Regions from separate parts of the Homo sapiens genome. Here all the other regions are linked to region 1. The links come from fine-mapping of genetic effects on gene expression. A gene starts in region 1. Each other region holds a variant in brackets. All regions are shown on one strand. Distances are from middle to middle.

Region 1 (8,181 bases):
CTGCACTCCAACCTGGGTGAGAGGGAGACTCTGTCTCCAAAAAAAACAATAAAGAAATAAATACACTGCCACTTCTCAGTTGGACACTGCCACACTCTCTTCACTGGTCCCATGCTCTAACATGCCATTCTCCCCACAGCAGCCAGAAGAGGGAGGCTCTTAAAAATTTAAGTTACATCACCTCCATCATTCTACTAAAGTAAACAAAACTAAACAAGCAAACCCTCCAATGGCTTCCCTCAATCTTCGGGCCCTATCTGCATGACTGCCTGCCCCTCCTCCATCTCTCCACTTTCCCCACTCACTAGCTGTTCAACACACAGGCTTCCTGACTGACTTCAGGCAAGCTCCACTCATTTCCACCTCAGGGCTTTAACCCAAGCAGTTCTCGGCCTGGAAGGCTCCTCTCAAGCACCTAATACAGTACCTGGCACACAGTAGGTGCTGAAAAAAACCTGGAAACAGGAAAGAACCTAGTATATCCCTGCTAGAGGAACCAAGAGTGCACCAGGGTGACTCAAATAGAGGCATAAGATGAGTTGGGACTTCAGTCCCAGTGAAGTGGGGAACCTACAGTTTTCAGGGGCCAGCATTCAGAGACCAGATTTGTCTTTTGAAAAGACCCCATTGGCTGCTGTGTGGATCTGCGGAGCAAGAGATCCAGGGAGACCTGCAAGGAGAGAGACCAGACTGGGGTGGTGACCGTGGAGACAGACAAGTGGCAGATCTGCTCACATAAAATGGAGACAATACTACTTTATCTGTATGCATGTCTGTGCCACCCCTGTCTCTGGGTCACCTTTGTGTCTCCAGCATGACCTGGCTCAGAGAAGGGGTCAGCAACTGTTTACCGACCATATCTGTCCTCAGAACTGAATGAAAGATCCATGAGAGGGGCTGGCACGTGACAAGGGTGGCAAAGAAAAACAACACAAATCTGAACCTAGTCTGAGTCCCAGCATTTACTAATGACCCAGAGAGGACCCAGAGAGGAGTTTGCTGCAGGTTCCATAGCCAATTAACCGCAGAACCAGAACTGGCAGCCAGGCAGGGCTAGAGCAGAGGCCCCTCTCAAGGCCCCTCCTGGGAGGGGCCCGGCTGTATGGGACAATGGGTTATGCCCTGTGCTGCTAAGCTCCACCCCTCCACCACCACATGTCCCTCCAGCTAAAAATAACTCCTTCAGTGCCCTCGAGGACACTGTGCCAGCCCCACAGTTTTCCCTGGGACCCTCAACTCCAAAGGCACAGGAGAGGCTAGATGCTGCAATCTCTGGAGCTAAGGACTTGCAAAAGTCACAGGAACACCTGTCCCCAGGACAAGCCAAGAGGAACAGCAAGAGCCCCTGTAAACATCAGTTTCTTCATCTGTAAAGTGTGGATAATCATCCCTAGCTTGCTATGCGCCTTAAGTAAAGATAATGCCATATGATCAAGATCTGGCATACAGCAGGGCCTCCTTCCTCCAGCCCCACCCAGCTAAGCTCCCCATCCCCAAATCCAGCTTTATCTCCACCCACACAACCCAATGGCCCCAATCCTGACCCACTAATCTCTCCACAGTATGACAAGCCCCCATTCCAGCTCTACTATTGATGTGACCTTCACATAACCTTTCTGGGTTCAGTTTCAGCATCCACACAATGGAGACAGTCTACTCTGGTAGCAACTTGATGAACTACTTCAACAGAATCTTTGCAAGTCACCTCCCAAGGGCCTCAGTTTCATGCTCTATATAACGGGATTACGTCCACCTCTATGAAGATTATTGTGTAAACACACGTAAATCACCAGATATACAGCAAGTGTTTCCATAAATGTGGATGGCATTCTCCAGACTTAATAGTGTCTTTTTTTGTTTGTTTTTTTTTTTTGAGACAGGGTCTTGCTCTGTTGCCCAGGTTGGAGCGTGGTGGTGCAATCTCGGCTCACTGCAACCTCCGTCTCCCCGGCTCAAACAGTCCTCCTGCCTCAGCCTCCCGAGTAGCTGGGAATGAAGGCGCCCGCCACCACGCCCAGCTAGTTTTTGTATTTTTGGTAGAGATAGCGTTTCACCACGTTGGCCAGGCTGGTCTCGAACTCTTGACCTCAAGTGATTCGCCCACCTCGGCCTCTCAAAGTGCTGGGACTACAGGGGTGAGCCACCACACCCGGTCCAATAGTGTCAAAGTTACTTGAAAAGCTACCAGCCAAACTGAACTGGTTTTTGCTGAAAATTCACTAGGATTGTTCCGCGTGTATTCGCTTGCACACAGTGGTGAAAGGGTGCGCTCAGAGATCTAGATGGCCTGCGTTCCAATCTTGCTCCATCACCACCAGCTGTAAGACTGAGGGCAAGTTACCTCTGCCTCAGGATTCTCATCATAAAATGAGAACAGTTTCCCTATAGAGCCATGAGACTAGAATAAAGCTAGAAGGCAGTGCCGATCCCACAGGAAACACTAAGTAAACGTTAACTATCCCTGTATTACACTTCAATCGGTGGGACAGCAGGATTTTTCAAACCACTCCAAATTTTCTTCGAGATTTCTGCAAGGCTGCCCCTGCTGGAGGGGTGGGGGACCCCACAGGTTGGGTAACTGGCCCAAAGTCCCAGGGGAGAGGAGGATCGGAGCCGGCCTGGGGCTCGCTTTCCAGGCCTCTCCTCATACACCCTCCGGGGTGCCCTCGCCGTCCCTGTAGGAGGCCCAGAGAGGGGTGGACGCTCGTCGGGGCCGCCCAGCTGGACAGGGTCCGGTCCAGGCCTAGGAGGCCGGGCGCAGGCCCCCCGAGCAGGGTCCGGCAGGTGCCAGCCGTCCCAGGCCGTGGCCAGGTGTGCTCTCCCGCGGAGCACGCCGCCAGTTTGCGGCTCGCAGACCGCGCGGCGGCCCCGGCGTCGCGGGGCATGCTGGGACTTGTAGTCCACGGCCACCCGGAACGGCCCGCTCATGGCCGCGCGAGAACTCCAACTTCCAGCTGGCTTCGCGCGGCCAGAAACGCGCCGAGGCTGCGATTCCAGGGGGTCCAGAGAGCCCCGAGTCGGCCCTGCAGCCCCCGCCACGAACAAGCCCCGGGCGGGTGCCGGGCGGCCGCAACCGGCTGCAGGTCCTGGGACTCACCGACTTTGTAGGGCAGTTTGTCAGACATGCTGGCGGCACTCGTGATGGAAACGGGCGAAGGGGGCTGGGCCTCAGTCTGGGAACAGGAACTGGGCGGGCAGCGCCGAGCAGGGATATGCGCGTGGCGCCGACGCCTTTAAATATCTTCCTCGCACTTGCATATTCATGACCCGCTGGGGCGGGGCCCAACGCGCAGGGCGGAGCCGGAGGGGATTTCGATCCCTGAAAAGAAGCCTCAGAATTTCACAAGGCGTGGCCCCAGGAGTCTCACTCACCGGTCCGGAAGGGAGCGCCGGGAGAGGCCTGAGAGCCAGCCGGGCCGTCCTCTCGCTGGTTCAGCCAGTTGATTCAGTGTCAAAACCCAGCGGAACTGAAATTCCGCCAGTTCACTTCCCTGTGCCTCAATTTCCTCATCTGTAAAATGGGCCAAATGACATCTGCCACACAGATTATTATAAGTAAAGTTGCAGGCCAGGCGCGGTGGCTCACACCTGTAATCCCAGCACTTTGGGAGGCCAAGGCGGGAGGATCGCTTGAGCCCAGGAGTTCAAGACCATCCTGGGCAACACAGTGAGACCTGAACTCTACAAAAAAAAATTAAAAATTAGCCGGGCGTGGTGGCGCGCGCTTGTGGTCCCAGCTACTTGGGACGCGGAGGCGGGAGGGAGGATCTTTTGAGCCTGGAGATCGAGGCTGCAGTGAGCTATCATCCCACCACAGCACTTGAGCCTGGGCGAAAGGGCAAGACCCTATCTCAAAAAAACCAAAACAAAGTTAAGTTGCCATTTGTCAGGTACCTACTGACATCCCAAACATTCGCCTTACTCCAAGTAACCAACACCCTGAATTTAAGTAAGTTTGCATACATTTCTTATACTTTTACTGCATCCGTATATCATTAAATAGTTCTGTGTTTAGCACCTTTATATATCAACCGTATTTACCCTTCTGCAACTTGCTTTTTTCTGTGAGCATTATATTTATGAGACTCATGCATATAGCTTGAGTATATTCATTTTTGCTGCTGTATAATTCAGTCATCCCAGGCATGGGAAGGGGAAATTGGTTTCAGGACCTCTGTGGACTCCAAAACCCTTCTATGTTCAAGTCCCTCATATAAAATGAGGCAGTATTGGCATATAACCTATGCACATTCCTCCGTACACTTTAATCATCTCTAGATTACTTATAACTAATATAATGTAAATGCTATGCAAATGGTTGTTTTGTAATTTGTATTATTTTTATAGTTATGTTTTTTTAATTGCTTTTTTTCCCCTGAATTTTTTTTTTTTTTTATGGAGTCTCACTCTGTCGCCCACACTGGAGTGCAGTGGCACCATCTAGGCTCGCTGCAACCTCCACCTCCCGGGTTCAAGCAATTCTCCTGCCTCAGCCTCCCGAGTGGCTTGGATTACAGGCACGCACCACCACACCTGGCTAATTTTGTTTTTTCTTTTTTTGAGATAGAGTTTGGCGCTTGTTGCCCAGGCTGGAGTGCAATGGCATGATCTTGGCTCACACCAACCTCTGCCTCCCGGATTCAAGCGATTCTCTTGCCTCAGCCTCCCGAGTAGCTGGGATTACAGGCATGAGCCACCACGCCTGGCTAATTTTGTATTTTTAGTAGAGACGGGGTTTCTCCATATTGGTCAGGCTAATCTCGAACTCCCGACCTCAGGTGATCCGCCAGCCTCTGCCTCCCAAAGTGCTGGGATTACTGGCGTGAGCCACCGTGCCCGGCCTCTACTCATTTTTTAACCTAAAAATGAGAAAAGAATTAAACTCTTCTGGCCGGGCGCGTGGCTCACGCCTGTAATCCCAGCACATTGGGAGGCCGAGGCGGGCGGATCACGGGGTCAGGAAATCGAGACCATCCTGGCTAACAGGGTAAAACCCCATCTCTACTAAAAATACAAAAAAAAAAAAAAATTAGCTGGGCGTGGTGTCGGGAGCCTGTAGTCCCAGCTACTCGCAAGGCTGAGGCAGGAGAATGGCGTGAACCCGGGAGGCCGAGCTTGCAGTGAGCCGAGATCGCACCACTGCACTCCGGCCTGGGCGACGGAGGGAGACTCTTGTCTCAAAAAATAAAAAATAAAAATAAGAATTAAGGTCTTCTATGACATAGTAAATGTATTGGTCTCACTTGATCTGTACATCTGACCTCTGTCTGAGAGTCATGAGGGCCGATGTCAAGCAGAGACTTCCTGAGGGAACGAGGGTCCACGCCTGGGAGGTGGGCAGCAGGGTCCTCACGCATCCCTTTCAGCATTCTGCAGTGCATTGCAGTGTGTAGTGAGTCGTGTCAGTCTAACTAAACGTAGGATCATGTTACTAGGTTGTCCTACGAGAACAGAAAAATGGCTTCAAAATATTCCTGCAAAGAAATGGCAAGTTCCAGATACTGTGAAAATTACCAGCACAGCAAACAAGTAGAAAAGGACACAGCTGACAGGTCTCTTTCTGGTATGAATGCTGGTCTTTGTCAGCCATGTTGTAAGGAATGTAATAAAATTTGAGAAAACAATGAAAAAGACACTTTGAAATATGAATTTACGGACCAGGCGCAGTGACTCACACCTGTAATCCCAGCACTTTGGAAGCCGGGGCGAGTGGATCACTTGGGGTCAGGAGTTCCAGACCAGCCTGGCCAACATAGTGAAACCCTGTATCTACTAAAAATACAAAAATTAGCCGGGCGTGATGGTGCACGTCTGTAAACTCAGCTACTCAGGAGGCTGAGGGACAAGAATTGTTTGAACCCAGGAGGCGGATGTTGCATTGAGCCAAGATTGCGCCACCGCACTCCAGCCTGGGTGACAGAACAAGACTGCCTCAAAAAAAAAAAAAAAAAAAGAAAAAAAAAGAAATGTGAATTTACATGCCCTCTCATTAATTAATGATGACTCTCATCCTCACTGTATATCGTGCTTTGAGATATCAGCTAATGAGATATTTGCTAATATTTGTACCGTTAAGTTCATATGAACAAAACTTTGGAGACTGCTGGTCTCAGGAGAAGGTCTAAGCACCTTAGTCTGGCCTTATGCAACCTCTCTAGCAGCAGAATGTTCTAGCCTATGGATATATTGCAATTGATATAGCCAATTTCCTATTATTTCAGCTTCTTTTTTTTTTTTTTTGAGAAAGAGTGTCTCTCTGTTGCCCAGGCTGGAGTGCAATGGTGTGATCTCGGCTCACTGCAACCTCTGTCTCCCAGGTTCAAAGTGATTCTCGTACCTTAGCCTCCCAAGTACCTGGGATTACAGGCACACGCTCCCACACCCGGATAATTTTTGTATTTTTAATAGAGACGGTGTTTCACCATGTTGGCCAGACTGGTCTTGAACTTCTGACATCAAGTGATCCTCCCGCCTTGGCCTTCCAAAGTGCTGGGATTACAGGTGTAAGCCACCACGCCCAGCCAGGTTCTTTTAATGGATGAACAGTTAAACAAATTGGTACAGCCATACCATGAAATAATACTCAGCAAAAGGAATAAACTTTGATAAATGCAGCAACCTGGATGAATCCTTAGAGAATTATGCTGAGTGACAAAAACCAATTCCAATATATTACATAGTATATTATTTCATTTCTATAATATTCTTGAAATGACCAAATTATAGAAATGAACCACAGATTAGTGGTTGCCAGGTATTAGGTAGGGGACGGGAGCAAGAGAGAGGTAAATGTGGCTGTAAAAGGGCAACATGAGGAAACTTTGTGGTGATGGAATGTTCTGGATCTTGCTTTATCATTGTCAGTATCCTAGTTGAGATGTTTTATTATGGTTTTGCAAGATGTCACCATTGGGAGAAAGCGAGCAAAGGGCATTGGGATTTCTCTGTGTTTTCTTTGTTTCTTTTTTCTTTTTCTTTTTTTTTTTTTTTGAGACAGGGTCTGCTATCTAGGCTCACAGCAACCTCCACCTCTCCCAGGCTCAAGCCATTCTCCTGCCTCAGCCTCCTGAGTAGCTGGGATTACAGGTGCATGTCGCTACCACCCGGCTAATATTTATATTTTTAGTAGAGATGGGCTTTCGCCATGTTGGCCAGGCTGGTCTTGAACCTCTGACCTCAAATGATCCACCTGCTTCAGCCTCCCAACATGCTGAGGTTTTTTTGTTTTTTGTTTTTTGTTTTTTTTGTCGGAGTTTCGCTCTTGTTGCCCAGGCTGGAATGCAATGGCAAAATCTTGGCTCACTGCAACCTCCTCCTCCCAAGTTCAAGCAATTCTCATGCCTCAGCCTCCTGAGCAGCTGGGATTACAGGCACATGCCACCGTGTCCAGCTAATTTTGTATTTTTAGTAGAGATGGGGTTTCTCCATGTTGGTCAGGCTGGTCTCGAACTCCTGACCTCGGGTGATCCGCCCGCCCTGGCTTCCCAAAGTATTGGGATTACAGGCGTGAGCCACCGTGCCCAGCCCCCTGTGTTTTCTTACAACTGCACATGAATCTACAATTATCTCAAAATAAAAGGTTTAATTACAAATGATAATGTTCATTGTTGGTGAGTGTATGGCAAAGTTTTGTCACCCATTAAATTAAAAAAATTTTTTAACTTTTATTTTAGTTCAGGGGTACCTGTGCCAGTTTGGTACATAGGTAAACTGGTGAGTTGGGGGTTTGGTGTACAGATTATTTCATCACCTGGGTACGAAGCACAGCACCTAAGTTTTTTTTTTTCTAAACCTCTCCCTTTTCTCACCCTCATCCCTCAAATAGGGCCCATGTCCATTGTTCCCTCTCTCTGTTGATGTGTTTTCATTATTTAGCTTCCACTTATAAGTGAGAACATGCTGTATTTGGTTTTCTGTTCCTGGGTTAGTTTGTTAAGGATAATGGCCTCCAGTTGCATCTATGTTCCTGCAAAGGACATGATCTTGTTCTTTTTTATGCATGCATAGTATTCCATGGTGTATATGTACCACGTTTTCTTTATCCAGTCTACCATTAATGGGAATTTAGGTTGACTCTATGTCTTTGCTATTGTGAATAGTACCTGTTAAATTTTAAAAGATTTGGCCAGGTGTGGTGGCTCAGGCCTATAGTCCCAGCACTTTGGGAGGCCAAGGCAGGTG
Region 2 (8,181 bases), 180 kb before region 1:
CCAGCTAATTAAAAAAAAAAATTGTAGAGATGGGGGTCTCACTGTGTTGCCCCAGCTGGTCTCAAAGTCCTGGCCTCGAGTGATTCTCCCACCTCGGCCTCCCAGTGTGCTGGGATTACAGGCGTGAGCCATAAAAGCACCTGATAGTCTTCTTGAAAGATTAGCAGACTTTCAGTAAGAAGTAATTAAGTGTACCTTGTATACACTCAGCACCTTGGTCACTATTCATTGCCCATCTTTCTCCCTTGCTCTTAAGAGACTTATAACCCCAGTACCCAGCACAGTGCATAGCACCTATTAGGAGCTCAGTAAACATTTGTTGAGGCTGGGTGCAGTGGCTCATGTCTGTAATCCCAACACTTTGGGAGGCCACAGTAGGAGGATTGCTTGAGGCCAGTAGTTTGAGACCAGCCTGGACAGCATAGTGAGACCCTGTCTCTACAAAAAAGTAATTAAAAAAAAATTAGCCGGGCATGGTGGCATGTGCCAGTGGCCCCAACTAATCAAGAGGCTGAGGCAAGAGAATCTCTTGGGCTCAGGAGTTCGAGGCTGCAGTGAGTTATGATCACACCACTGCACTCCACCCTGGGTGACAGCAAGACCCTGTTCTCTTTTAAAAAATCAATTAAAAAAAAAAGAATATGAATGTTTTTTGATGATGTTATCCAAGGTTACTTAGTATCTTGCCATCTGTACAGAAGACTTCAAAACTCTTAAGAAAACCACAATGAGATACTACCTTACACCCAGTAGAATTGCTATTAATTAAAAAAAAAACCTCCAGAAAATGACACATATTATCAAGATGTGGAAAAACTGGAACGCTTGTGTATGTTGGCAGGACTGTAAAATGGTGCAGCCCTATGGAAAAGAGTATGGTGGTTCCTCAAACATTTTTAAACAGAATTACCATATAATCTAACAATTCAATTACTACGTATATTTAAAAAATAAAAATAAAAAAACAAAAAAAAAACCTGAAAGGGCTGGGCATGGTAGCTCACACCTGTAATCCCAGCACTTTGGGAGGCTGACGTGGGCGGATCACCTGAGGTCAGGAGTTTGAGACCAGCCATGGTCAACATGGTAAAACCCCATCTCTACTAAAAATACAAAAAATTAGCCAGACATGGTGGCCGGCGCCTGTAATCCCAGCTACTCAGGAGGCTGAGGCAGGAGAAACACTTGAGCCCAGGAGGCAGAGGTTGCAGTGAGCTGAGATCGTGCCATCACACTCCAGCCTGGGCAACAAGAGCGAAGCTCTGTCTCAGAAAAAAAAAAAAAACAAAACAAAACTGAAAGCAGTGTCTCAAAGAGATATTTTTATGTCCATGTTCACAACAGCATTATTCATACCTGAGAAGCACCCCGGGTGTCCATCAGTGGATGAATGGGTAATCAAAATATGGTGTGTACATACAATAGAATATCATTCAGCCTTAAAAAGGAAGGAAATTCTGATACATGCCACAATATGGATGAACCTCAAGAACATTATGCTTAGTGAAATAAGCTAGCCACAAAAAGACGAATACTGTGTTATCCCATTTATTTGAGGTACCTAGAATAGTCAAATTCATAGAAAGAGAAAGTAGAATGGCGGTTGCTAGGGGCTAGGGAGAGAGGGGGGAAGAGAGAGTTGTTGTCTAATAGGTACAGAGTTCCAGTTTTGCAAGATGGAAAGAGTTCTGGAAATTGGTTGTACAGCAATGTGAATATACTTAAAAATAGTTGAAAAGATAAATTTTATGGTATTTGTATTTTACCATATTTTTTAAAAAGAGAGCACTAAACTGGGAGACAAAAGACCAAGGTTGGAGTTCTTGGTTGTTTTCCACAGATAGATCAGTCTCAAGGAATTTGAGACTTCCTTGAAACTCAAGGAAGTACTCAAGGAAGTTGAGTAAAGGAAGCTTCTTTACTCATTGTTTCTGTTAATTCATCTTTAAACAGGATAAAAAAGACTGTGGAGTCTAGATTTGTATGAGGATCAAATAAAAACCAAAAAAAACAAACGTTTAAAATAATTTTTTGAGTTGTAGTTGTTCTCAATATTCCAGAGCCTCTGATCTCTTGATATTTGTTACAAGTTTCACATCTTATTTCATAATGAAATGCTAAAGATGCCTCAGCAATAGCCAGTTGACTTCAAAGGTCTTGTATGAGGAATCCTTTTAATTTGGGCTATTCACCTTATAATTTGGTCCTGGGAAAACAGCAAATAAATAAACTTTTATGAGGACTATTTATGATCTAAGATGCTAATTATCAATGTAGTTTAGCATGAACTAATGAAATACAAGCTCAGGATTTTCATGTTAGTATAAAAAAGCTCTTCTTCAACAAATCCCCAAATGGCGGATGACGCCTGTGCAGGGGGCGGCAGGGCGTGGGGTGCGGAGGTCGGGTGGAGGCCGGGCGGAGGCCGGGCGGAGGCCCCCGCAAGCCCTGGGAGGGATGGGGAACCGCGGTGGCTTCCGCGGAGGTTTCGGCGGTGGCATCCGGGGCCAGGGTCATGGCCGTGGACTGGGCCGGAGCCGAGGCCATGGAGCTCGCAGAGGCAAGGCCGAGGATAAGGAGTAGATGCCCGTCACCAAGCTGGGCCACCTGGTCAAGGACATGAAGATCAAGTACCTGGAGGATGTCTCTTCTCCCTGCCCATCAAGGAATCTGAGACCATTGACTTTTTTCTGGGGTCCTCTCTCAAGGAAGAGGGTTTGAAGATTATGCCGGTGCAGAAGCAGACCCGCGCGGGCCAGCGCACCAGGTTCAAGGCGTTTGTTGCCACCGGGGACTACAATGGCCACGTCGGTCTGTGCGTTAAGTGCTCCAAGGAGGTGGCTACTGCCATCCGCGGGTCCGTCATCCTGACCAAGCACTCCATTGTCCCCGTGCGCAGAGGCTACGGGGGAACAAGATGGACAAGCCCACACCGTCCCTTGCAAGGTGACAGGCCGCTGCGGCTCTGTGCTGGTGCACCTCATCCCTGCACCCAGGGGCACTGGCATCGTCTCCGCACCTGTGCCCAAGAAGCTCCTCATGATGGCTGGTATTGATGACTGCCACACCTCAGCCAGGGGCTGCACTGCCACCCTGGCAACTTCGCCAAGGCCACCTTTGACACCATCTCTAAGACCTACAGCTACCTGACCCTCGACCTCTGGAAGGAGACTATATTCACCAAGTCTCCCTATCAGGAATTCACTGACCACCTCGTCAAGACCCACACCAGAGTCTCCATGCAGAGGACCCAGGCTCCAGCTGTGGCTACAGCATAGGGTTTTTATACAAGAAAAACAAACTGAATTAAGCCTGAAAAAAAAAAAAAAAGCTGGTCTCAAATTAGGGGCCAACATGGAAGAATTAATATCTGTTGAGTACTTACTAAGTGTCAGGCCCTATAGATGTTACATGCATTATCTCATTTAATACTCAACAACAGCCTTGTCAGGTTAAAAGTATTATACCCATTTTATAAACAGGTTAATGAAGGCTCAGAGAGTGTCAGTCACTTACCCAACATAACCCAGTGAGTAACAGAGATGGAATTTGAGCCCAAGTCTGTGTGAATCTGAAGCCCATATTATTTCTACTATGTTACAGTGCCTCTGAAAATATATTTAACTGTGCCTACTTCTAATAGAGTTTATGATAAATGATATATATTTGATGTTTATATATTTATATCAATTATTTTACTTCATCATTACAAGTAAGATAGACTATCTAGGGATGATTATCACCACTTTACAGATGAGGAAACAGATGGTCAGAAAATTTAACTTACCTAGCTTCAGACCAGTAAATGATAATAACAGGGCTTGGACACATGTACCGCAACTCTCAGACTCCTACTTTTTCCACATTGGCCTATGAGAGTAGAATTTTATCTATATTTTACCTATGAATTTTCTTTTTTTTTTTTTTTTTTTTTTTGGAGACGGAGTCTTACTCTGTC[G/A]CCCAGGCTGGAGTGCAGTGGTGCAATCTTGACTCACTGCAACCTCTGTCCCCCAGCTTCAAGCGATTCTTCTGCCTCAGCCTCCCAAGTAGCTGGGAGGGATTACAGTCGCCTGCCACTGTGCCTGGCTAATTTTTGTATTTTTAGTAGAAATGGGGTTATATCATCTTGGCCAGGCTGATCTTGAACTCCTGACCTCATGATCTACTCGCCTTGGCCTCCCAAAGTGCTGGATTACAGGCGTGAGCCACCTCGCCCAGCCATATCTATGAATTTTCTGGTTCTAACTTTTTTTAATAGGAGCAAAGAGTGGACATCTTGACAGTCTTGCACTTCTGTTTATGCTTGGACAGATTAAACACATATGTTTATCCCTGTTCACTCCCCAAATCACTGAAGTGACAGTGAGTTAACATTTTTAGGTTTACCAGTCTACAGACAAAGAGAATAAGAAAGAAATCAATAGCAGATTAAGGATATCAACAAATTTTTGGAAGATGGAAAACCATAGCTGAGCTGAGAAAACAATTCTAAATGTTTGCTGAGGGTTATACTAACAAGGGACAAACAGATTCGTACTGCAGAACACTAGAATGTCAGGACTGGGACAGAGCAGATCAGAGGTGATGTGAGAGGCAGAAGAGAGAGGGTTTGGCTGAAAGCCTTTATAGGAAGTGAAACTGCCAGGTCTTTTTCTCCATCCTACTCACTTAGACAACTACCCTTTCATCTCCCTAGCAGCCCCTGGGACAAAATTGAGGTAGAGAAGTTCCAGACACTGAGATACCAGGCACAGCTAAAGATATAATAGCAGGGAGGCTAAGGTAGGAGGATTTCAGACTGAAAACAGAGATTAGATGAATTGTCTACATGCTGAATGGTGAAGCGCACTCAGTCCTCCTGCTGAAATTTATTCCAGGAATGCTGACAGCAAGGCTTGTATTCTCCAGGCAAGATATCAGGGAATTAATTTTAATTAATTAACCCCAGAGGAAAGATCTATACATACTGATATTTGAGGTCCCCCAACAAAACACCTAGGTACCCACTTTATCATCCTACAGATAAACTTCCTGTTAACACAGAGCTTCCAAATACTTAGTGACTCACTCTTAAATATGAAGAGACAACAAAGGGTCACCAGATATTTAAGATAAACCTCCACCAGGAAAGACAGCATCAAATAGAGAAAAAAGAAACTCAAAGGGAACAGAAACTGAAGAGAACAGAAAAATATTTTTAAAAAACAATAAGCAGTCTATGAGAGATAATAGAAAATACTGCATCCATAAAGCAAAGATAAAATGCTCTAAAAAAAATAGAGTAAGTAACAGCTCTGGGGAATTAAAAATATAATAGAAAAATTGGCTGGGCATTATGGCTCATGCCTGTAATCCCAGCACTTTGAGAAGCCAAGGTAGAAGGATTGTTTAAAGCCAGGAGTTCAAGACCAACCAGGGCAATATTAGATAGACCTCTTCTCTGCTAAACATTCTTTTAAAAAGAGAAATTAGGCTTGGTTCAGTGGCTCACGCCTGTAATCCCAGCACTTTGGGAGGCCGAGGCGGGCGGATCACGAGGTCAGGAGATCGAGACCATCCTGGCTAACATGGTGAAACCCCATCTGTACTAAAAATACAAAAAATTAGCCGGGCATGATGGCGAACACGTGTAGTCCCAGCTACTAGGGAGGCTGAGGCGGAAGAATGACATGAACCCAGGAGGCAGAGCTTGCAGTGAGCCGAGATCACACTACTGCACTCCAGCCTGGGCAACAGAGCGAGACTCCATCTCAAAAAAATAATAAATAAATAAATAAATAAATAAATAATAAAAAAAGAAAAAAAATTAGCCAGCTGTGGTGGCTCATGCATGTGGTCCCAGCTACTTAGGAGGCTGAGTCAGGAGGGCTGCTCAAGCCCAGGAGATGGAGGCTGCAGTGAGCTATGATCATGCCACTGCACTCCAGCCTGGGCAATACAGCAAGACCTGTTCTCAAATAATAATAATAGAAAAATAAATAATTTATATAAGTCTTAATATATAAAGTTGAGGAAATCTCTCAGAAAGTAGAACAGAAATACAAATGGAAAAATAAAAGAGAAAAGATAATTAGAGGATGAATCCATAAGGTCGACCATTAGATTAACAGGAGTTCTGGAAATACAGAAGAAATGGAAGAAAATTATCAAAGAAACTGAGTTTCCAGAGTGGCAGAGCCTGCTGAGTGCCCAGCATAATGAAAGAAAACAAAACAAAGGAAAAACATTATGGCACATCATCATGAAATTTTTTAACACAAAGGATAAAGAGAAAATCAAAAATCTTGGTGATAGGAGGTGAGGAGGGGGCAGGGAAAGGGCAACAGGTTACTTATGAAAGAGCAGGTAATAGGAATAGCATTTTTGTCCATAGTAACATTAGTGGCTAGAAGACGATATAGGGAGGCTTTCAAAATTCTGAGAGAAAATACGTTTTCAATCTAGAACTCCTATACTAAGCCATATTATCAGTCAAGTATGAGGAATAAATAAGTATATTTTTAGGCATGCAAGGATCAGAAATTTACCCCTCATCCCCACATAACTTTTCTTAGGAAAGCACTGGAGGATTTGCTCTAGTAAAACAAGAAAGACAGAAAAAAAATCCTAAAATTTGTATGGAACAAAAAGTCCAAATAGTCAAAGCAATCCTAAGCAAAAAGAACAAAGCTAGAGGCATCACACCACCTGAATTTAAAATATACTGCAAGGCTCTAATAACCAAAACAGCATGGTATTGATATAAAAACACAGACCAAGGGAACAAAAAGAGAACCCAGAAATAAATCCACGTACAGCCAATTGATTTTTGACAAAGGTACCAAGCACATACATTGGGGAAAAATGTTGTTGGGAAAACTGGATATCCATATCCAGAAGAATGAAACTAAACTCCTGTCTCTCACCATACGCAAAAAATCAACTCAAAATGTATAGGGAAAAGAAAGAGCGATCAGACTGTTACTGTGTCTATCTAGAAAAAGTAAGACAAAAGAAACTCCATTTTGATCTGTACTAAGAAAAATTGTTCTGCTTTGAGATGCTGTTAATCTGTAACTCTTGTCCCAACCCTGTGCTCACAAAAACATGTGCTGTATTGACTCAAGTTTTAAGGGATTTAGGGCTGTGCAGGATGTGCTTTGTTAAAAATGTTTTTGCAGCCAGGCGCAGTGGCTCATGCCTGTAATCCCAGCACTTTGGGAGGCCGAGGCGGGCAGATCATGAGGTCAGGAGATCGAGATCATCTTGGCTAATATGGTGAAACCCTGTCTGTACTAAAAATACAAAAGATTAGCCAGGCGTGGTGGCGGGCCCCTGTAGTCCCAGCTACTCGGGAGGCTGAGGCAGGAGAATGGCATGAACCTGGGAGGCGGAGCTTGCAGTTAGCCGAGATTGAGCCACTGCACTCCAGCCTGGGTGACAGAGCAAGACTCCGTCTCAAAAAAAAAAAAAAAAAAAAAATCACACCTGTAATCCCAGCACTTTGGGAGGCTGAGGCGGGCAGATCACGAGGTCTGGAGATCAAGACCATCCTGGCTAACACGGTGAAATCCCGTCTCTACTAAAAATACAACAAATTAGCTGGGCGTGGTGGTAGGCGCCTGTAGTCCCAGCTACTCGGGAGGCTGAGGCAGGAGAATGGCATGAACCCAGGAGGCAGAGCTTGCAGTGAGCCGAGATCGTGCCACTGCACTCCAGCCTGGGCGACAGCGCAACACTCCTTCTCAAAAAAAAAAAAAAATGTGTTTGCAGGCAGTATGCTTTGTGAAAGTCATCGCCATTCTCCATTCTCTATTAATCAGGGACACAATGCACTGTGGAAGGCCGCAGGGACCCCTGCCCAAGAAAGCCTGGGTATTGTCCAGGTTTCCCCGGACTGAGACAGCCTGAGATATGGCCTCGTGGGGAGGGAAAGACCTTACAGCCCCCCAGCCCGACACCCGTAAAGGGTCTGTGCTAAGGAGATTAGTGAAATAGGAAGGCCTCTATGCGGTAGAGATAAGAGTGTGGCATCTGTCTCCTGCACGTCCCTGGGAATGGAATGTCTCGGTGTAAAACCCGACCATACATTCTATTTACTGAGATAGGAGAAAACCTCCTTATGGCTGGAGATGAGACATCATGGCGGCAATACTGCTCTGTTACTCTTTACTGCACTGAGGTGTTTATGTAAGCTTAAAC
Region 3 (8,181 bases), 990 kb before region 1:
AGCCCCTCTAGTCTGGGTCCCACCTGGTCCTGATGAAGGGATCCCTGTCCCAGTCCACGTGACCCTGTCAGAGTCAAGTAGCTCCTCCACCCCAGCCAAGCGGGGCACAGGGATCCTTCTCCAAAACAGCCCGAGCCGTATATCCTCCGCGTCCCATCACCCACACCCTCTGGGGCTTCCTGGGGGTCAGCAGATACATAACCCTGGCTTCCTCACCCTTTGGGGGAGGGAACAACTCTAGGACACCTGCTGTAGACAGGCTCCCAGCTCACCAGCGGGACTGGGCCCCAGTTGTCCATGCTGATAACCAGCGTGCTGACACAGTTTTTTTTTTTGGTGGGGGGGGTGTGGTTTGGGGTTTGGTTTGGTTTTGTATTGTTTTGTTTTGTTTTGTTTTGTTTTTTGAGACAAGGTCTTGCTCTGTTGCCCAGGCTGGAGTGCAATGACACAATCTCAGTTTACTGCAGCCTCAAACTCCTAGATTCAAGTTATCCTCCTGCCTCAACATTCCAAGTAGCTTGAATTATAGATGTGCACCACCATGCCCGGCCCAATATGCTCTTTATAGGTTGCCTCACCTCCCCACCTCACTTCCACACTCCCCTACCAGTGTTCCCTGGGGTCATCTCCCAAATCAACTACCTGCACTCCAATCCTGTTCTCAGGGTCTGCTTCTGGTGAACCTCAATCAAGATAGCCATTTGCTCCAGGCAGGCACTATTCTAAGGATCTTCCAGACCTTTGGTCACGCCACCTTCCCCAGCGCCTGTGGCACAGGCTCCCCCCACACCTGCACCTGACAAATGAAGAAACCAAGGCTCTGACAACTCTGCACCACTCCCAAGCAGCCCCCAACTATTACCCCACACCACCTCCTTCTTCTCTCTGCTCCTTTATCGCCTACCCACTTGGGTTTCCACCTCCCCCAAAAAAAGAGAGGGGTTGTTCTCCTGTGCCAGCCTCCTGATTTGGGCCTTGAAACACAACCACCCTCCATGAACTGCTGAGGCTCCTCCAGGCTGGGAATTCCACGACTCCACTGCCTTGCTGGGCTGCGGGAGGAAAACTCCTCAATTTCCTGCTGTCTTAGCAGCAGCAGCAAAGAGAAAACACCAAGAGATCTCATTAAATCATCGTGCCTTGCAGGAATTAGTACTGTGTTTGTCTTACAGATGGGAGATGAAGTAACAAACAGCTGGTGATGTGATGGGGCTGGGGCGGGAACCCAGGCCTCACCCACTTTGCCCTGAGCCTCCCAGCTGAATCCACAGCAGGTTATAGATCCAATTTTCTTTCTTTCTTTATGTCTTTTTTTTTGAGACAGGGTCTCACTCTGTCGCCCAGGCTAGAGTACAGTGGTGCAATCTCTGCTCACTGCAACCTCCGCCTTCCCAGGCTCAAGCAATTCTCCTGCTTCAGCCTGCCGAGTAGCTGGGATTACAGGCATGCGCCATCATGCCCGGCTGATTTTTGTGTTATTAGTAGAGACGGGGTTTCGCCATGCTGGCCAGGCTGGTCTCGAACTCCTGACCTCAAGTGATCCACCCGCCTCGGCCTCCCAGAGTACTGGGATTACAGGCATGAGCCACCGCGCCGGGCCCCAGTTTTCTTTTTCTTCAAAATAACGGTAACAACCAGCAGCCTCTGCTCCCAGCACAGTGTTATCTACTTCCTGTGAGTTGAGCATTCCCCTTTTACAGATCAATAAACTGAGGCTCAGAGAGAGGCAGTAACAGTGTCTTGCCCATCTCCGTGTCCTGCCTAGGGCTTCCCTTTTGTGGAAGACACCCCCATGAAACCTCCCATCTCTCAGCAGAGATTAGTCAATGAGGTAAGCATATGGAGGCCGTGGGGCTCCGGTCTTTTTCATTTAGAGACCAGATTTGGGAAGGAAAGAAGACCTCAGTGGTTCCACTAACACCCTGCGCCTTCCTGGTGACTCAGGTGAGCAGTTAACCCAAGAGCTTTTCTCTGCCCTTGGCAGAAGGAAGACAGCCCTTCACAATAATATTGAGACCCAGTTTGCAGAAATGAAGGGGACCTATCAACTCTTAAATCATATTCTAACCCAAAAAATCTGAGATTCTAAAATAAGAATATCCCATCTAATCTATGCTGCCAAGTCATATTAGGTTGATGCAGCAACTTAATACTGACACTAGCCCTTTGCTTTTGAGGTTAGCCAAAACGAGAACTTCAGAGCTGCCATTGACCTTGTGCTTCCTGCACAGCTGCTGTCTTCTAGACCCCACCCTTCAGGTTGGGCACGGTGGCTCATGCCTGTAATCCCAGCACTTTGGGAGGCTGAGGCAGGCAGATCACGAGGCCAAGAGATCGAGACCAGCCTGGCCAACATGGAGAAACCCCGTCTCTAATAAAAATACAAAAATTAGCCAGACATGGTGGCACGCACCTGTAGTCCCAGCTACTCGGGAGGCTGAGGCAGGAGAATCACTTGAACCTGGGAGGCGGAGGTTGCAGTGAGCCGAGATCACGCCACTGAACTCTAGCCTGGGCAACAGAGAGAGACTCCATCTCAAAAAAAGAAAAAAAAAAAAGAACTTGCCCTTCCATTGTCAGCCTCTCTGCCCCAGGTCTCCAGCCAAAGAACACAGTTTAACACCTGCTCTGTCCATGCCTCTGAGTTGTGAAAGGGAAAGACATTAACCCCAGGAGGAAACCCTGTGAAAAATCCAAAATCCACCTAGAGAAGAGTCACACCTGCCATTGGGGTGCCCATACTAGACAGCAATTAATGAAGCCGTCAATGCTGACACAGCCAGCTGTGCACACTCGCAGTGGGGATGCCAGGATTCCCACATCAAAGGACCCTGGCACAGCAGTTTGGTTGGGAGCTAGGTCTCCGAGTCTTGGAGCTGCGTGGCATAGTGACACCAAATTTCTCTTTCACTGAGTGGTCAGACCCCTCTCTGGGCCCTGATTTCAAATCCCAGCTTTATCATGGACATGCTGTGTGACCCAGAGCAAGGTACTTAACGTCTCTGAGTCTCAGTTTTCTCATCCATAAAATGGAAGTTAAAAGAAATAACTTTTTGAACACTTCCTATATGCTAGGCCCTGTACTGAGTTGCCTTAACGAACCTTCACCATACCAAAAAGACATAAATGGATCTATCATTCCCATGTTACAGACACGAAAAGTGAGGCTCAGAAGAGAAAGCCACTTGCCCACAGTCA[C/A]ACAGCTCCTGATTGAAGGTGGCAGTTTGAGCCCAGGCCTGTCTGGCTGCAGAGACCATGCCATTGGTGACCACGTCATAGCAAAAACTGATGGCTTGGACAACCTAGACAGAAAGGGCATAGGTCCTGAGACTCGGCAGAGCTTGAAAGTAATTTTAAAATTAAAAAATTTTTTAAAAGACTATAGAGAATGGCTACCAGAAGGTGGACCCCAGAGCCCCCCTGCCTGGCCCTTGCCACCCACCTGCTCTCCTCCCTCTGCCTCACCCCCACACAATCACTCCCGTGGGTTCTATGACTGCCACATCCTGTACTAGGAGCCCCCGCAGGGCCCCTCCCGAGAGCTGGGGTCCCTACCAGGGCTCCACAGCTCCAAGGACGTTCCAAACGGAAATGACCCACTCTCAAAATCACAGGGCCCCACCCGCCTCCTCCCTAAAGCCTGTTGGTCCAGGACTCAGGGCCTGCCCCTCCAGCCTCAGTTTTGGCCAGAAGCCCCTTGCCACCCAGTGCCAAGAGGACCTCTCCCTCCACTGAAGAGCTCCTCTGAGCCGCAAGCCTGGCCAAGGGGCTGGACTTCCTGCCCGGGTACCCACCCGCCTGGGCTTCTGAGCTCAGGTTAAAAAAGTTGTCTTTCTGGGAAGCTGGAGACAGAGGCCAAGGAGAGATTCCAGATAACCCCATTCTTGGAGATGTAAGGCCAAGGAGGTCAACGGGGCATTTCTCAAATATTTCTTGAGCACCTATAAAAACGTTGTGAAGTGGCACACAGATTTTTAGCACCAGGCGAACCTGGGCCGGAATGCCGGCTCTGCCACTCACTACCTGTGTCACCTTGGGTAAGTTATCTCTCCATTCTGAGCCTCAGTTTCATCATCTGTATCTTGGGCCTGATATCAATGATCTGAGACCATTGGGGTGAGGACTCAATGATGCGATGAAGCTTGTGCAGCCCTCAGCATGGTGCCTGGCACATAGTATGGACTCCAGAAGTCAGGGTCGGTATGGCTGGCTCAACCCAGGAAGTGGAGAGGGTGGAAAGATGAGTGTGCTGTGCTGAGGGCAATGGGGGAAAGAGATCTGACTTGAGTGAACTGATAGAGAAAAGTGTTTGACACAGAGACTGACTAAGTGCTGGTTGGATGAATAGTGGATGCATTTGACATCAGCTTGGAAGAGCAAATGCCACAAGCACAAATTTCACAGCCCAATCAATACAAAGCAGTTTGTGTATGCAAACAAACACAAAACCATTCTCTTTCCGTTATCCGATTTGGTCACTGTTTTGAAATCCTGTGCCACCAAGTAGCAAAAAACTGGATACTCAAGGCAATGCCAGGACATTCTAAGGCACTCCAGCGTAGGCTTAGCCACTTCAGGGGTCTCCTCGCCTTGCTCAAGGGCAGCGTCTACCCTCTGGGTGGCTTCTTCATGGGCATGGCATGGAGGGCAATGGTAGCTCCTCTGTGGGCCCTGTTTATAGTGACATCTGCCCTAGAGATGTCTGCATTTTGGCTGGTCCCTGCCTTGCAGTTCCAGAAGCTTCGTTTCCTAGTGGAATGCTCCTGCCCACCCAGACAGCCCCTGCCTGCAGATTCTGGGGTCCCAGCTATGCCCTTTCAGACACGTGGCAGGGCTGAGGTTCTGCTGGTAGGAACTGGTGGTACAAATGCAGTGTTTGGAATATTTCTCTGCTAGCTGGTAAAGATCTGTAGCTTTAAGCCCCCCAGGTGCCTACCGCTACCACCTCTCTGACACCTCCCCCAGAACCTCTATCCCATAGCAAACTCAAGATCCAGAAGCCTCCAGTGTTAAAAGGAAGTGCTAGGCTATGAGGAATGACTCACACTTGTAATCGCGGCACTTTAGGAGGCCAACACAGGAGGATCGCTTGAGTCCAAGAGTTCGAGACCAAACTGGGCAACATGGCGAAATCTAGCCTCTGCTAAAAATACAAAAATTAGCTGTGCATAGTGGCATGCTCCTGTAGTCTCAGCTACTTGGAGGCTGAGGCAGGAGGATTCCTTGAGTCTGGGAAGTCGAGGCTGCAGTGAGCCAAGATTGTGCCACTACATTCCAGCCTGGGTGACAAGGCAAGACCCTGTCTCAAAAAAAAGGGGGAAGTAATACATCCTTTAACCTCTCACAATGTCATCCAACCATATTAACAGCTGTTGGGCACTCACTGCTTGCTAAGTGCTTTGCACATATTATGGAACATATTCCTCACAACGACCTAGAATTGTCCCCATTTTACAGATGAGAAAACTGAGGCATGAAGAGGTCCTGTGACTTGCTCAGGTCCCACCCTCAGGAAGTGGCAGGGCCCAGCTTTGAAGCCAGCCCACGCTCTGGAGAAGGGCACTCCAGGCCGAGGGATCCACAAGCACAAATGTACAGTGGCAGGAAGTGCAGGCTGTGTTCGAGGACTAGCGGATCTGGAGCTGGGGGCAGAGGCAAGGGAAGGAAAGCTGGAGAGATGGTCCTAGGAGAGGCAGAGCTGGGAGATACACAGTGACAGGGCCCCGGTGAGGACGTCAAGGCTCCCACCTCTGTGTCTGCAGGTCCTGGCCAAGAGAATGCTGCTGCTCTGGATGTCACTGCTTGCTGGACGCTGCTGCCCCAGGCCCAGGGGAAGGCCCAGCACCTACTCTGCCTTCAGAGGACAAGAATCAGTGGGAAACAGGTAAATGTTAAGGGGTGAGCGTCAGAGGCATGAACTCAGGAAAGGCCAGGGGTGGGAGACGGCACCACCTCCCTGCTCAATGCTTCTCCTGTACAGGCCTCCCCCTTGCCACAGAATTCACCTTACCTCACCCAGAGCTGATCCTGTCTCTCCCCTGCTCTAACACTTGCCATGGCTCCTCAGTGCCCTCAGGAGAACCTCTGAGCCCCTTATCCTGGCATTCAAGGCCCTGCATCTCCAGCCTCTTCCACTGCCTCCTTCCCTGACCACCCCCACAGACTTCACAGCTCCCTCCTGTGCTAGGCTGTTCCTCTGGCCTGAAATGCCTTTCTCTCCTGCTCAACCTGGTGCATCTGGGCCCATGCTTGAACGCAAAGTTCTAACCACCTCCTCTGGGAATTCCTCTCGATTTCCCCAGGCAGAAGGGATCTCTCCTTCCTCTGAGTTCCCACAGCCCTTTGGTGACGTCTCCTCTGCGGCCTTATCCAAGTGTGCTGCGCCTGCTGTCCCATCTGTCTGTAGGGCTGGCTGCCTCTGTCCCTAACTCCTGACTGAGCTGTTTGTCATCCATCCAGCCCCATCCCCGCTCGCCACGCTGCAGCCTCACTTATCTTTCTGTTTCCTACCACGCCAGGCTCACCAGCACCTCAGGGCCTTTGCACGTTCTGTTCCCTCTGCCACCATGGCTGTCCCCGAGATCAGCCTGCATGATGGATTCCTCCACCTCACTCAGGCCTCAGCTCAGAGGCCTCCTCCTCAGAGAGGCGCTTCCTTTTCACCCCATCAGAAACAGATCTTCACCCAGTCATGCTCCGACTCCACTGTATTTTTTCTTTTGCACAGATCACTCTGGAATATTGCCTTGCTTGCTGATCTGAGTGCTCGGCTTTTGTCTCTCTCCCTACCAGGAAGTAAACTCCATGAGGGCAGGAGCCACACTGCTTCTGTCCCTTGAGCCCAGGAGAGAGTAAGCACTCAGTAAGTGCTGGCTGCCAAATGACTGAGTGAATTTGGTGAAAGGTTGAATGAACAGTACAGCCCCACACTGAAGCGGGGCTTGCATCCTCGGACAGTTCAGACCTGTTCTCAGAGCACTACACCCTGGACTGCATGCTCAGCCTGCCTGTGACAGGGGCCAGGAGCAAAGGTGTTGCTGTCCTGGACCACCTGCCCTTTGTAGGCAAACGCCTCTCCAAGAAGAGCAGTGGGCTGGACCTGTCGCAGGTCGGTCGGGGAACTGCTTTCAGGGAAGAGCCTCCCCCTGCTGTGGGAGCTACTCAGGGCAGGTGGATAAGTGGAGGGCTAGGACTGCCTCTGGCCTTTCCTGGTACCCTGAGCAGCTGTGTTCTCAGCACGGTGTCTTTGGAGGTTCTCTATAGCCTGGAAAGTGCTAAGCAAGTCTACTTTTCTTGACCCTATGTCTCTCCAAGCTGCTTGAAATCTTCCTAGGAAGAAAGTAGGGTCTCAATCTGGGACCTCAGCCCGGCAGCCCTCCTGCTCCCTACACTCAGCCTACAACTGGGTTTTCTGCAAACCTACATAGGTTTTTGAAAAATATTTTTAATGAATTGCCAACATATAAAAATCAAGAAGATTTTAATCAAAATCTGGGTTTCCCAATTGTATTAGATTGTGAGGACTGCCATAACAAAGTACTATTAATACAAACTGAGCACCCTGGACAACAGAAACATATTGTCACAGGCACAGCGGCCGACATCAGTAATCCCAGCACTTTGGGAGGCCAAGATGGGCAGATCATTTGAACCTAGGAGTTCAAAACCAGCCTGGGCAACATGATAAAACCCCATCTCCACAAAAAATACAAAAATTAGCCAGGCATGGTGACGCGTGCCTGTAGTCCCAGCTACCCTGGAATCTGAGGTGTGAGGATCACCTGAGCCCTGGAGTTCAAGGCTGCAGCAATCCATGATTGTGACACTGCGACTCCAGCCTGGGCAACAGAGTAAGTCTCTGTCTCAAAACAAAACCTCCAGGTAAGGCAAGAGGGCTCGCACCTGTAATCCCAGCACTTCGGGAGGCCAAGGCGGGTGGATCACTTGAGATCAGGAGTTCGAGAACAGCCTAGTCAACATGGTAAAGACCAGTCTCTAATAAAAATACAAAAATCAGCCAGGTGTGGTGGCACGCACCTGTAATTCCAGCTGACTGGGAGGCTGAGGCAGGAGAATCACCTGAACCTGGGAGGCAGAGGTTGCAGTAAGCCAAGATCACACCACTGCACTCCAACCTGGGCAACAGACTGAGACTCCATCTCAAAAACAAACAAACAAACA

What was found. PIP is the estimated chance that this variant, and not a neighbour inherited with it, causes the effect.
Region 2: its variant is fine-mapped to the expression of AHCY in whole blood (TOPMed, PIP 0.97).
Region 3: its variant is fine-mapped to the expression of AHCY in prefrontal cortex (CommonMind, PIP 0.95).

Annotation. Positions count from the first base shown.
Region 1 is chr20:34,300,146-34,308,326 of GRCh38, forward strand. It overlaps AHCY (adenosylhomocysteinase), which reads right to left and starts at 3,210. Exons shown (of 10, transcript NM_000687.4): 1 at 3,098-3,210. The coding sequence starts at 3,125. RefSeq lists a silencer at 2,585-2,814 and enhancers at 3,385-3,434, 3,455-3,574.
Region 2 is chr20:34,120,013-34,128,193 of GRCh38, forward strand. It overlaps the pseudogene RPS2P1. Among named protein-coding and RNA genes, the nearest start is that of EIF2S2, 12 kb to the left of the region's middle. RefSeq lists a silencer at 4,682-4,751. The variant G/A (reference allele first, on the strand shown) is at 3,959.
Region 3 is chr20:33,311,092-33,319,272 of GRCh38, forward strand. It overlaps the pseudogene BPIFB5P. Among named protein-coding and RNA genes, the nearest start is that of BPIFB1, 32 kb to the left of the region's middle. RefSeq lists enhancers at 579-1,079, 1,080-1,580. The variant C/A (reference allele first, on the strand shown) is at 3,199.